Linked DNA regions of Homo sapiens. The protein of the gene in region 3 interacts with the protein of the main gene of each other region in a pairwise test. Each region holds a gene or a part of one and is shown on either strand. Other genes may lie near its edges. The genes, in order: OLFM2, CD101 and ST13.

Region 1 (3,651 bases), on a different chromosome or scaffold from region 3:
GGCGTGGTGGCGGCCGCCTGTAGTCCCAGCTATTCCGGAGGCTGAGATGGGAGAATCGCTTGAATCTGGGAGGCGGAGCTTGCAGTGAGCTGAGATCGCGCCACTGCACTCCAGCCTGGGACAGAGAGCGAGACTCCATCTCAAAAATAAATAAATAAATAAATAAATGACTAAAGTGATAAATTTTATATTATGTGTATTTTACCACAATTAAAAATTTTTAAAGTCTTCCATTTAAACATGCACAACCTCTTCTATGAGTCACTATTACCAGCTCACTAAATTCTAGGCCAAGTGCAGTGGCTCACGCCTGTAATCCCAGCAGTTTGGGAGGCTGAGGCAGGAAGATCTTATGAGCCCAGGAGTTCAAGACCGGCCTGGACAATATAGTGAGACCCTGTCACTACAAAAAATAAACAAAAAAAATTATGTGGGCATGGTGGCACACGCCTGTGGTCCCAGTGACTCAGGTGGCTGAGGTGGGAGGATTGCCTGAGCACAGGAGTTTGAGGCTGCAGTGAGCTGTGATCGCGTCACTGCACTCCAGCCTGGGCAACAGAGCAAGACTCTATCTCTAAAAATAAATAAATAAGGTCCAGCACGGTGGCTGACGCCTGTAATCCCAGCACTTTAGGAGGCCGAGGCAGGCAGATCACGAGGTCAGGAGTTTGAGACCAGCCTGGCCAACATGGTGAAATCCTGTCTCTACTAAAAATACAAAAATTAGCCAGGCGTGGTAGCACGCGCCTGTTAACCCAGTTCCTTGGGAGGCTGAGGTAGGAGAATTGCTTGAACCTGGGAGGGGAGGGTTGCAGTGAGCTGAGATCGCACCACTGCACTCCAGCCTGGGCGACAGAGCGAGGCTCTGTCTCGAAAAAAATATAAATAAATAAATGAATAAATAAATTCTAAAATCCTTAACCCAGCTTTCGAAGCCTTTACAGTCAGATCACAACCTTTTCAAGCTCACTTCCCTTCTCCTATCTGCACCCACCATAGGCATCAACCACACACTTACCCTAGTTCCCATTTCCAGAAACTTCCCCTCTTTTAAACATGGTTAGAATCATGTAAAATAAGGGTAAACCCACCAGGTCTTGTCAGCATGACCAATGACTTTCTTCTGTGTCCACCCTCCAGTCTTCACTCGCTCATCCTTCAAGGCCCATCTCAAATGCCACCTCCCCCAGGAAGCCCACTTGACTCTTGACATCTGGCACTTTGTACCATGTGTCGGCTGCATCTGTCTCCCAAATTTGGCAACTGACAGCCATTCAGAGCGGACTGTGTCACGTCCCTCCTGAGTGAGTGAGTGCCTCTATCAGTGTCTTTCTCATAGAAATTACTAGAGAAATTAGGAACAGAAACAATGTGGGCCGGGTGCAGTGACTCATGCCTGTAATCCCAGCACCTTGGGAGGCTGAGGCGGATCACTTGAGGTCAGGAGTTCGAGACCAGCCTGAACAATATTGTGAAACCCTGTCTCTACTAAAAATACAAAAATTAGCTGGGCCCTGTGGCTCATGCCTGTAATCCCAGCACCTTGGGAGGCTGAGGCAAGAGGATCACTTAAGGCCAAGAGTTCAAGACCAGCCTGGGCAACATAGTGAGACCCCCATCTCTACCAAAAAAAAGAAAAAGAAAGAGAAAAATTAGCTGGATGTAGTGGTACACACCTGTAGTCCTAACTATTTGAGAGGCTAAGGTAGGAGGATCACTTGGGCCAAGGAGGTTGAGGCTACAGTGGGCTGTGGTCACACCACTCCACTCTAGCCTGGTCAACAGAGCAAGACCCTGCGTCTTAAAAAAAAAAAAACAAAATAAAATTTAAAAAGAACCCGGCTCACCATGTGCTCATCATGTATTCTTCCTGGGATTCACCAGGACTCTCTTAGAGCCTAAAAAGTGAGAAGCTATTTGCCATTTCATTTGATGGCTGAACTGGCTTTGCCTTTTTGTTTCTTTCTTCTTGTGCAATGACACCTGTCTTCTCATCTATTAAGCAAGGCTAGTTACTAGCTGCCCAGGATTGTTGGAACTATGTGTAAAGTAAGAGTAAACTGGGACCGAGAGTCTACTGGGTCCCCAGGAGCAACAAGAACAACCTTTTCCAGGCTGGATGCAGTGGCTCATGCCTGTAATCCCAGCACTGAGGGAGGCCAAGGTGGGTGGATCACTTGAGGCCAGGAGTTCAAGACCAGCCTGGGCAACATGGCAAAACCCCGTCTCTATTAAAAATACAAAAACTAGCCAGGCATGGTGGTGCACGCCTGTAGTCCCAGCTACTTGGGTGGCTGAGGCATGAGAATTGCTTGAACCCAGGAGGCAGAGGTTGCAGTGAGATGAGATCGTGCCACTGCACTCCAGACTGGGCGACAGAGTGAGACTCTGTCTAAAAAAAAAAAAAAGAGAGAAAGAGAATAAGCTTTTGTATACAGTCTTCATGGAATCTACTCTCCCTACTCTCTGCTCTTTCCTGGTGACTTCTTGGTTTGTGGCTGCACTCTGGATGGATGAAGTTGCAAGACACACTGAGGTGGTGTGCACCTGTAATCCCAACTACTTGGGAGGCTGAGGCAGGAGAATTGCTTAAGCCCAGGAGTTCGAGGCCTGCCTGGGCACCATGGCAAGACCCCATCTCAAAAAGAAAAAAAGAGATAGAATGGGCTTCCACCTTGGCAGGGAGGACATGTCAATGTTCTCAGACAAGAGTTCCCTAGATATGGGAATAAAATGTTCCTGTCATGACAAGTTTTTTCCCAACACAGCCAGACTCAACTCCTCCAGAAGTTAAATCTACTCCACCCCTTGAAAGCACAAACTACCACCCAGTGCTTGTTGCATAGTACAACGCTTGAGATACAGAAGGCTCTCAATGAATGCTCTCTAAATGAATACATGGGCCGGGCGCGGTGGCTCACACCTGTAATCCCAGCACTTTGGGAGGCTGAGGCGGGTGGATCACCTGAGGTCAGGAGTTTGAGACCAGCCTGAACAACAATATAGAGAAACCCTGTCTCTACTAAAAATGTAAACATTAGGTGGGTGTGGTGGTGTGTGCCTGTAGTCCCAGCTACTTGGGAGGCTGAGGCGGGAGAAGAGCTTGAACTCGGGAGGTGGAGGTTGCAGTGAGCCGAGATTGCACCACTTCACGCCAGCCTGGGCGACAGAGTGAGACCCCGTCTCAAAATAAAATAAAATAAAATAAAATAAAATAAATGAATACATGCATGTAGGAACAAATGAAAACAGCACATTACTGTCTCTCAGGCACTAACACTGAATCCTGGGGCTACAAAGTCATTGCCCACACCAGCCACTGGGCTCATCAGAAACCCACACATACCAGGCCAGGCGTGGTGGCTCACGCCTGTAATCCCAGCATTTTGGGAGGCTGAGGCAGGCAGATCACCTGAGGTCAGGAGTTCGAGACCAACCTGACCAACATGGAGAACCCTCGTCTCTACTAAAAATACAAAATTAGCTGGATGTGGTGGTGCATGCCCGTAATCCCAGCTACTCGGGAGGTTGAGGCAGGAGAATCACTTGAACCCAGGAGGCAGAGGTTGCGGTGAGCCGAGATCGCGCCACTGACCTCCAGCCTGGGCAACAAGAGCGAAACTCCATCTCAAAAAAAAAAAGAAAGAAAGA
Region 2 (4,181 bases), on a different chromosome or scaffold from region 3:
TGCTCTCTCTTTTAATGGGTAGAGGGTTAGCTACTTTTGAATAGTAGCTCATATTCTTGTTGGCTGATGAGTACAAAGCTTGGCACTGACATACTAACATTAGAATCATGCTTTCAAAACACCAAAAATTCCTCGATGGTATTGACTTTCTTTAAAAATATCACTGGAATTGTCAAATTTACCACTGCAGTATTATTTGAATGAAAACGATTAGGTTGAACTGTATAAAATGGTCCATACTTGAGCACTTTTTATACCAAAAAAACAGCAGTTTCAAATAATGCTACCTTATACAAAACCTACCTCAGGAATAGCCAACATAACAAGCAGCTTCTTTCTCTTTTCACATTCAAAAACCCTATATGCTTGGAGGCTGAGATAGCTTCCATCCATACTAAGTGGAATCTTTTTTATTTTTCATGAATGCAAACTCAGTAAGACAGACAATAGCCCTTCCCCCAAACCCTGCCATATTAATGGCCATTATTTGTAGGGCAGCTAGTTTGGGTGGGGGAAATAGATCAAGCAGACAAAGCTAACTGCTAAATCCGAGAACTCATTTACCCATGACATTAATCTCATATGGCACCATTTTCTATCAGGATTGTTCAGTCCTTATATTTACTAAAAAAAAATTGGGACAAAGTGTAAATTTGCTAACCAATGTAATTGATCAATAGATCGTTATTTAAATAATTTATTTCAATTCCCCTCTATATTTGTAAGGACAAACAGCAGACTTCTAAAGCTTTTTCCAGTAACTTCCTGATTTATGTATTCTTCACATAAAAACTGTGCTTCTACACAAAATTAGTGCTTCAGATGAGTCAGAATTTAGAAGAAGTAAATGTATAACCCAGTTTAGGTAATTGTTTAAATGGGTTAAGGAAAAGCTTCCAGCTTCCCCTTTTTGAGCCTTGATTACTACTTTCCTTCCCCCAGGGCTTCTAGCCTGCTTACCAAAAAAAGAGACAGAATTTGCAATTCTATGAATTATTGCACAATGTAAACCCAGTTTCCTCCTATATACATAGCAAACATAGAATTCAAATACACAAAGCACATACACTTGAGAATCACACTCAGACAACTTAACCAAACAACAAAAACACACCAGCCCCCAAAGGATCCCACCAGTGCACCTATCCATCAACACCCGCCAAGCCAGTCTGGCAGGCATCCGTCACCCAGCAAGTGGTCCCAGTAACTTCCCCTGCAGGCCCTAGGTCTGACTCTTAACCTCACACTATCATATGTACCTAGAGACATGAGCACAATTCAACTCAATCAATGTTTATTAAGCAACCTCTTTGTGCTGAATGCTGTATTCTTTTCTTTTAATTCTTCAGCCATAGTCCTGGTCACACCAAATGCAGCTTGGTTTAGTTCCCCAATCATCCCAGCCATTCGGGTCCCTGCACTGGCTCCATCCAGTCTCTCTAAAGCAAGAGTTTTGTTTGTTTGTTTGTTTTTTTAGATGGAATCTCACTCTGTCACCCAGGCTGGAGTGCAGTGGCTCAATCTTGGCTCACTGCAACCTCCACCTCCCAGGTTCAAGCGATTCTCCCACCTCAGCCTCCCAAGTAGCTAGGGCCACAGGTATGTGCCACCATGCCCAGCTATAAAGCAAGAGTTCTTAACTGGGTCCACATGTAGGATTAAAGGGTCCATAAACTAGGGTGAAAAATAATCTTACATCTTTATTTTCATTTTTGCCTCTAATGGAAATTTAGTATTTTCTTCAGTTATGTATGTAGACAACCACAGATATCTTCATATCACATTACAACTACTTAAGATATATTGAAATGTTATTTATACTCATCATTACTTTGAAGTTTGGTGGTTAAAAGACCTACCTGTAGATTTTGTTATGTAATGCATAAATAAGAAGCAAATAAATTACTGCATTATAATTTATTTAAAATATTTTGATACCTGTATTTCAATGTGACTGATTTCCTCTGTAATTCTATGCATTTTATTTTATGCATTTTAAACATTATTCTGAGATGGAGTCTATTCTCTTTACCAGATGTTAATGAAAACTGTAGCATAAAAAGTACCTGCTATCTGGTTTGAAACTATTCCATTACCTGCTCAACTCATCTGACTCTCCCTTCTACCTCCAAATTTTCTCTTCTTCCATCCTATTCAAACATAGATAAATGCCCCTAGATCAGGCAAGCCCCTCTGCATGGCCCTCAGTAGAGCCAAGTGAATCTTCCTGTTCATTTCTCAGTCTCTCAGTAGTCAATTTCCACTTCCACTCGCAGGTGAAATCTAGAACCTTCTTTTAGCATAGTCTAAAACTACTAAGTACTTTCATAACCTTTCTTTCCATCCAGTCATATCTGCAAGGCATAGTTATCCCATCAAGCCTTAATATCAGGCAAACCTTAAGGTCTCCTCTCAGTTTGGGACACAAAGCTTTTTTACTGTCTCTTGGGATGATCGGCCCAGGAAGATGAGTAAAGCCAGGGCCAAGCAAAACTGACAGATCTGGCAACACACACAAATGTTAAAACCAATGGAATCTTGTGCATGGGACTCAACCAAGCATTGTGACTCCCTGGAACTCAAGGATGTCTAGGTAAGCCAAGAACTGTCATTAGTAAGTCAAAAATTATTGCTAACATCAGAAATATATGGCATAGTTGTTCCTGTAGAGACCAAATTGTCCTGTTCCATCACTCAGCACCCTGAGTTGATGAACTCCTGTGACAAGAGAAACATAAAGGATTATGAAACTTACTCAGAAGGAGAAAGAAAGATGCCACATATGAGATGCCTGCCATTTGGGCCAGCACAGTCCTTTTTCGTCCCAATAGTGTCACTAACATTCAGAGGTTGAGTGACAAATGCTGTGCTCTCACTGCAAAGTAAAGAGGAAGCAAAAGTGTGGTTTTCAGCCCACTGAGAAATAGAGATGTCTTGTGAAAAGCAAAACTGGTTACATTATGTAGCTCTTTACTAATCACTCAAATTTGGGAGTAAAAAAGTTATCTTTGTGGTTAAGTAAACAGATATCGATAAAACTAAGAAAAGATGGGTCTCAACCTGGCTCACAGTATGTGTCATTTGGTAATGATGAGAGAATTTAGGTAAACTGAATAAATAAAAAAGGCACCAGCAATGTTGTCTTCTTGGCCCTTCCTTCTCCTCCTCTCTTGAGAGAGGAAATGACTGAGAAATGGGAGAAGGCCCCTGAAAAACATGAACTTGGGGCGACATGAGGTGGTGCTGAAGGTTACAGGCTCTAGAGTCAGGCTGCCTGGGTTTGCATGCAGATTCTAGTTTTAGTAACTGTGCAATCTTAGAAAACTTAATTAACTTTTCCTAACCCTCATTGCTAAAATGAGGATACTAATAGTAGGTACCCTGTAAGATTACTGTGAATGCCAAATGAGCTAATTTTTTAATTATTTTTTTATTTCTTTTTTTTTGTATTTTACTTTTTTTTATTATTATTATACTTTAAGTTCTAGGGTACATGTGCACAACGTGCAAATTTGTTACATATGTATACATGTGCCATGTTGGTGTGCTGCACCCATTAACTCGTCATTTACATTAGGTATATCTCCTAATGCTTTCCCTCCCCCTTCCCCCGACCCTATGACAGGCCCCGGTGTGTGATGTTCCCCTTCCTGTGTCCAAGTGTTCTCACTGTTCAATTCCCACCTATGAGTGAGAACATGCAGTGTTTGGTTTTTTGTTCTTGAGATAGTTTGCTGAGAATGATAGTTTCAAGCTAATTTATTTAAAGCACTTAGAACAATATCTGGTACATAGTAACTGCTCAATGAATATTAGCTACCATCATCACCATCATGAGACATTTAAGTAAATCTTCATCTGCCCTGTGAAACTGCCTTTGCAAAAATTGTAACAGTGAGAAAGTTATGACAGTGAAAGGGATCTGACCTCACCATCTCCATCTTGCTTCTAACTTCCAAGCTGCCCTTGTTAATTCCTGGTTGTAGGCCAAACTAACTTTGGGAGGAATTTAGCTTAGTTTAATTTTGAAACAAAGAGGATAACAGCCCTTTCTGGAAACAAACCCCCTTCTTGCCTGGGGAGCAGACTTCCCTAGTAAGACTAACAAATTAGCCACAACATTAGAAATTATGGTTTAGGAGTCATGCAGCCAGAGGCCACACAATTCCAACCTCCCCAAC
Region 3 (3,651 bases):
AGCGATGGAGTATTTAACTAATGACTTTCCCTTTCTCTACTTTGACATACCCTAGGTTGAACTTCTTTCAGCATTGCACTAGCATCTTCATCATAATCCAATTTACAGGCAAGGGCAAGATCATGGGCTGCTTCTTCCCAGTGGCCTAGAAGTCTGAAACAGATTTACACTCATTTTAGGAGCCTTTTATACATATTCACCTATGTGGCATGATATCTTTCTTCCTTACAAAAAAGGATTGTTCTAAAACAGGCTTAAGTTAAATATTAACTATAAACTTTCACTAACCAATTCAATTACTATATCCCATTTTAGTTAACTCTATAAAAACCTGAAAACATTTAAATTTCCTCTATTTAAAGCTGCTTTTCTACTAAAAGCTAAAAAACAAACAAAATCTTTCTTAATTCAGAATATCGTAATTTTCTAAGTATGTAGACCAGTAACTTTCAACTCGCCCAAACCAGGACTAACATAATGTGTTAGCTTTTAGCTACCTTCTATGTAAGACAGAAGAGAAAATAATACATGTGTACAGGCTTTACGAAAAACTCAGAACAAGTAAACCAGAAACTAAAGGTTGGTGACAGTAGGTGAGAATGGGGCAGAGGAGACAGCAACGAAAACTGAGAATTCACTGGGTATACCTTTTAACTCAGGTGTAACTCTTCGAACATTTAAATGCTTTACATACTCAAAAAATAAAATCAGAAAAATGGAAATAAAGCAAATCCTAAACCTGAATACAAACAGAAATAAGAAGCTGTGTGGCTGGGCGCGGTGGCTCACGTCTGTAATCCCAGCACTTTGGGAGGCCGAGGCGGGCAGAACGCGAGGTCAGGAGATCAAGACCATCCTGGCTAACCCGGTGAAACCCCATCTCTACTAAAAATACAAAAAACCAGGCGCGGTGGCAGGCGCCTGTAGTCCCAGCTACTCAGGAGGCTGAGGCAGGAGAATGGCATGAACCCAGGAGGCAGAGCTTGCAGTGAGCCAAGATCGCGCCACTGCACTCTAGCCTGGGTGACAGAGGAAGACTCCATCTCAAAAAAAAAAAAAAAAAGAAATAAGGTGTGGCTAGGCGCGATGGCTCATGCCTATTATCCTAGCACTTTGGGAGGCTGAGGCTGGTGGATCACCTGAGGTCAGGAGTTCAAGACCAGCCTGGCCAATGTGGCAAAACCCCATCTCTAATATAAAAAATTTGCCACACATGGTAGCGCACACCTGTAATCCCAGCTACTTGGGAGGCTGAGGCAGGAGAACCGCTTGAGCCCGGGGCGGGTGCAGTGAGCCAAGATTGCACCACTTCACTCCAGCCTGGGTGAAGGAGCAAAATGCCTCAAAACAAAACAAAACAAAACAAAACACTGTGTATTGCATTAACAACATAAGCTACACAGAAAAAAATGAATTCAAGTAACTTTTCATAGTTATCTTGACTGTATATTTCAAGTGGGATATATATTCTAAGAATAAGAACATCCTTGGGTCACACCTGTAATCCCAATGCTTTGGGAGGGGAAGGAGGGCAGATCACTTGAGGCCAGGAGTTTGAGAATAGCCTGGCTAATAGGCGAAACCCCCTCTCTACCAAAAATACAAAACATTAGCTGGGCATGGTGGGGCGCGACTGTAAGTAATCCCAGCTACTCAGAAGGCTGACTGAGGCAGGATAATCACTTGAACCTGGGAGGTGAAGGTTGCAGTGAGCCTAGATCGCACCACTGCACTCCAGCCTGGGCAACAGAGTGAGACTCTGTGTAGAAACAAAAGACAAAGCAAAACAAAAACTTCCCAAAAAACCTTCAAACTTTACTTAGAGTGTATACTGTTTTTAAGGTATTGTAATTCTGAAACAGTTTTATGTATATCACAGCATTGTAGTAAGTAAATGTAAAACTAGGACAAAAATTTTTACCACACAAGTGTCAAAAATACAAACTAAAAGGTAAAACAAAACATTTAATGTTACATTTTAATAGAAAATATCAGTATAAACTCACAATTTCAAGAATTTTTTCCCTAAATTCATGATTTTTAAAATGTTTTTTTCTAGCTGTTCATTGAAACGACAGTACATACCAGAAGCAATGAACAGACACAGTGATCAAATCTTAGTTTCCGCTATAATGAACCACGATTTCCCACAGAAATAGCTTATTTTCAGTCTGAGACAAGCAAAGCACAAGATGAGCCAACGCTGTCTTGTATTAGAAGGCAAAGAAATACTTGGACTAATGGGATTTCAAAAGGATCAACAGCAATGCATGGGCTTTTCCTGTGCTGACACAGCATTAATAAATTTTATTTCAACTTTTAATGTTTATCTTTAACATGTGTCATAAAATCCACTAGAGCTACTCTGAGTCAGCTAATACAGTTGTCCTAAAAACATATCCATCTTTATCTCCATCCACATTTGAGCCCTTTCAACCCAGGTAACATGTGAAAGTCACTGAACACTTCATTCCCAAGATACAAATATTCCTAAGTTTTGCTGCAAGGTATAATTACTAATCTGGGTTAAATTCACCTCTTTATGCCCCCCCGCCTTCTCCTAATTTTTCAGGTGGCCTAGCAGTGACTGAAGTAGTTTCAGGCTGGCATACTCCTTCTTCTATAATACACTGGTAGTTCAATGCTAACTTACAGAGTCTGAAAGTAAGAGAAAATTTGTAAGGACACTGATAAAAGATCATTCTTTCTTTTCCTGGAATTAATTTTAAGTAAAAATCCTTTCCTTATATTTGGCCATATGTAGTCAAAAACTGGTAAGAGTAGCTTTATTTGAATGAAAAAAATGAAAATACTTTTTATTTCTTCCTTCCTATATTCTCACTTCTTCTTTTAAATTTCTTTTTTTTTTCTTTTACCTTTTAAGCAGCTGTCTACAAGCTATCTCACTTCTTGATACTAAGTACACACTAATTTGAAAATTAAGTCATTAGGAACTTTTGTGTTTTTGTTTAAACAAAGCATCTTAAAACATCAGATTTAAATGTAAAGAGTTCTGAAAATAATTAAATTCAATTATTTACCTGTGTGCTTTCCCCCGCCACTTGTAAGGCTGAGCTGAATCAGGATTTATTTCAATGGCTCTGTCACAGTCTCGGATGGCAGCATTTGGCTTCTGTAATTTGACGAAGACACTGAAAAATAAGTGTGTTATTAAAAAGTATTCATTTCAGTAAAAGTTTTGGGATCAACACAGAAGCAACTCTATTTAAACAAATGTGCAGAAATTATTTGCCAGGGGATGCTTTTCTGTTTAGAGTTCTCACCTGGCCCTCTTGGCATACAAAATGGCCAAGCGAGGATTCAGCTTGATGGCATCTGTGAATAAGTCAATGGCTTTCTGGAGTTCACCTAAAGTGAAACAAAAGTTATCGAGAAATATTCAGAGGATAAAAATATTAATAAAAAGTTTTGATCTGTTATCCAGTTAAGTCTTTTACATTTTTCTTTTAATCAAGTAAAAATAAAAAAGACAACTAAGTTATACTAAAACTGGCTCTTGAAAGCAAATCTTACCACACCTATACTGTAACTCACGAGGTAAGACAATTTCTGAGTACGTAAGCCCCTAACTAACAATAGAATAGCACATTCTTAGTATGACCCATATTGATCTTGTTTAAGGAAAAAGTA

The links.
Region 1: the proteins of ST13 (region 3) and OLFM2 interact in a two-hybrid assay, tested with the Homo sapiens proteins (one large-scale study listed by BioGRID and IntAct).
Region 2: the proteins of ST13 (region 3) and CD101 interact in a two-hybrid assay, tested with the Homo sapiens proteins (one large-scale study listed by BioGRID and IntAct).

The regions. Positions count from the first base shown.
Region 1 is NC_000019.10:9,926,410-9,930,060, forward strand, and holds part of OLFM2 (noelin-2 isoform 2 precursor), read right to left. Parts: intron 1-3,651. UniProt on the Homo sapiens protein: Involved in transforming growth factor beta (TGF-beta)-induced smooth muscle differentiation.
Region 2 is NC_000001.11:117,000,435-117,004,615, reverse strand, and holds the start of CD101 (immunoglobulin superfamily member 2 isoform 1 precursor), read right to left. Parts: upstream 2,857-4,181; 5' UTR 2,844-2,856; coding exon of another isoform or gene 2,799-2,843; coding exon 2,756-2,798; intron 1-2,755. UniProt on the Homo sapiens protein: Plays a role as inhibitor of T-cells proliferation induced by CD3. Inhibits expression of IL2RA on activated T-cells and secretion of IL2. Inhibits tyrosine kinases that are required for IL2 production and cellular proliferation.
Region 3 is NC_000022.11:40,832,519-40,836,169, forward strand, and holds part of ST13 (hsc70-interacting protein), read right to left. Parts: intron 3,370-3,651; coding exon 3,285-3,369; intron 3,153-3,284; coding exon 3,042-3,152; intron 154-3,041; coding exon 51-153; intron 1-50. UniProt on the Homo sapiens protein: One HIP oligomer binds the ATPase domains of at least two HSC70 molecules dependent on activation of the HSC70 ATPase by HSP40. Stabilizes the ADP state of HSC70 that has a high affinity for substrate protein.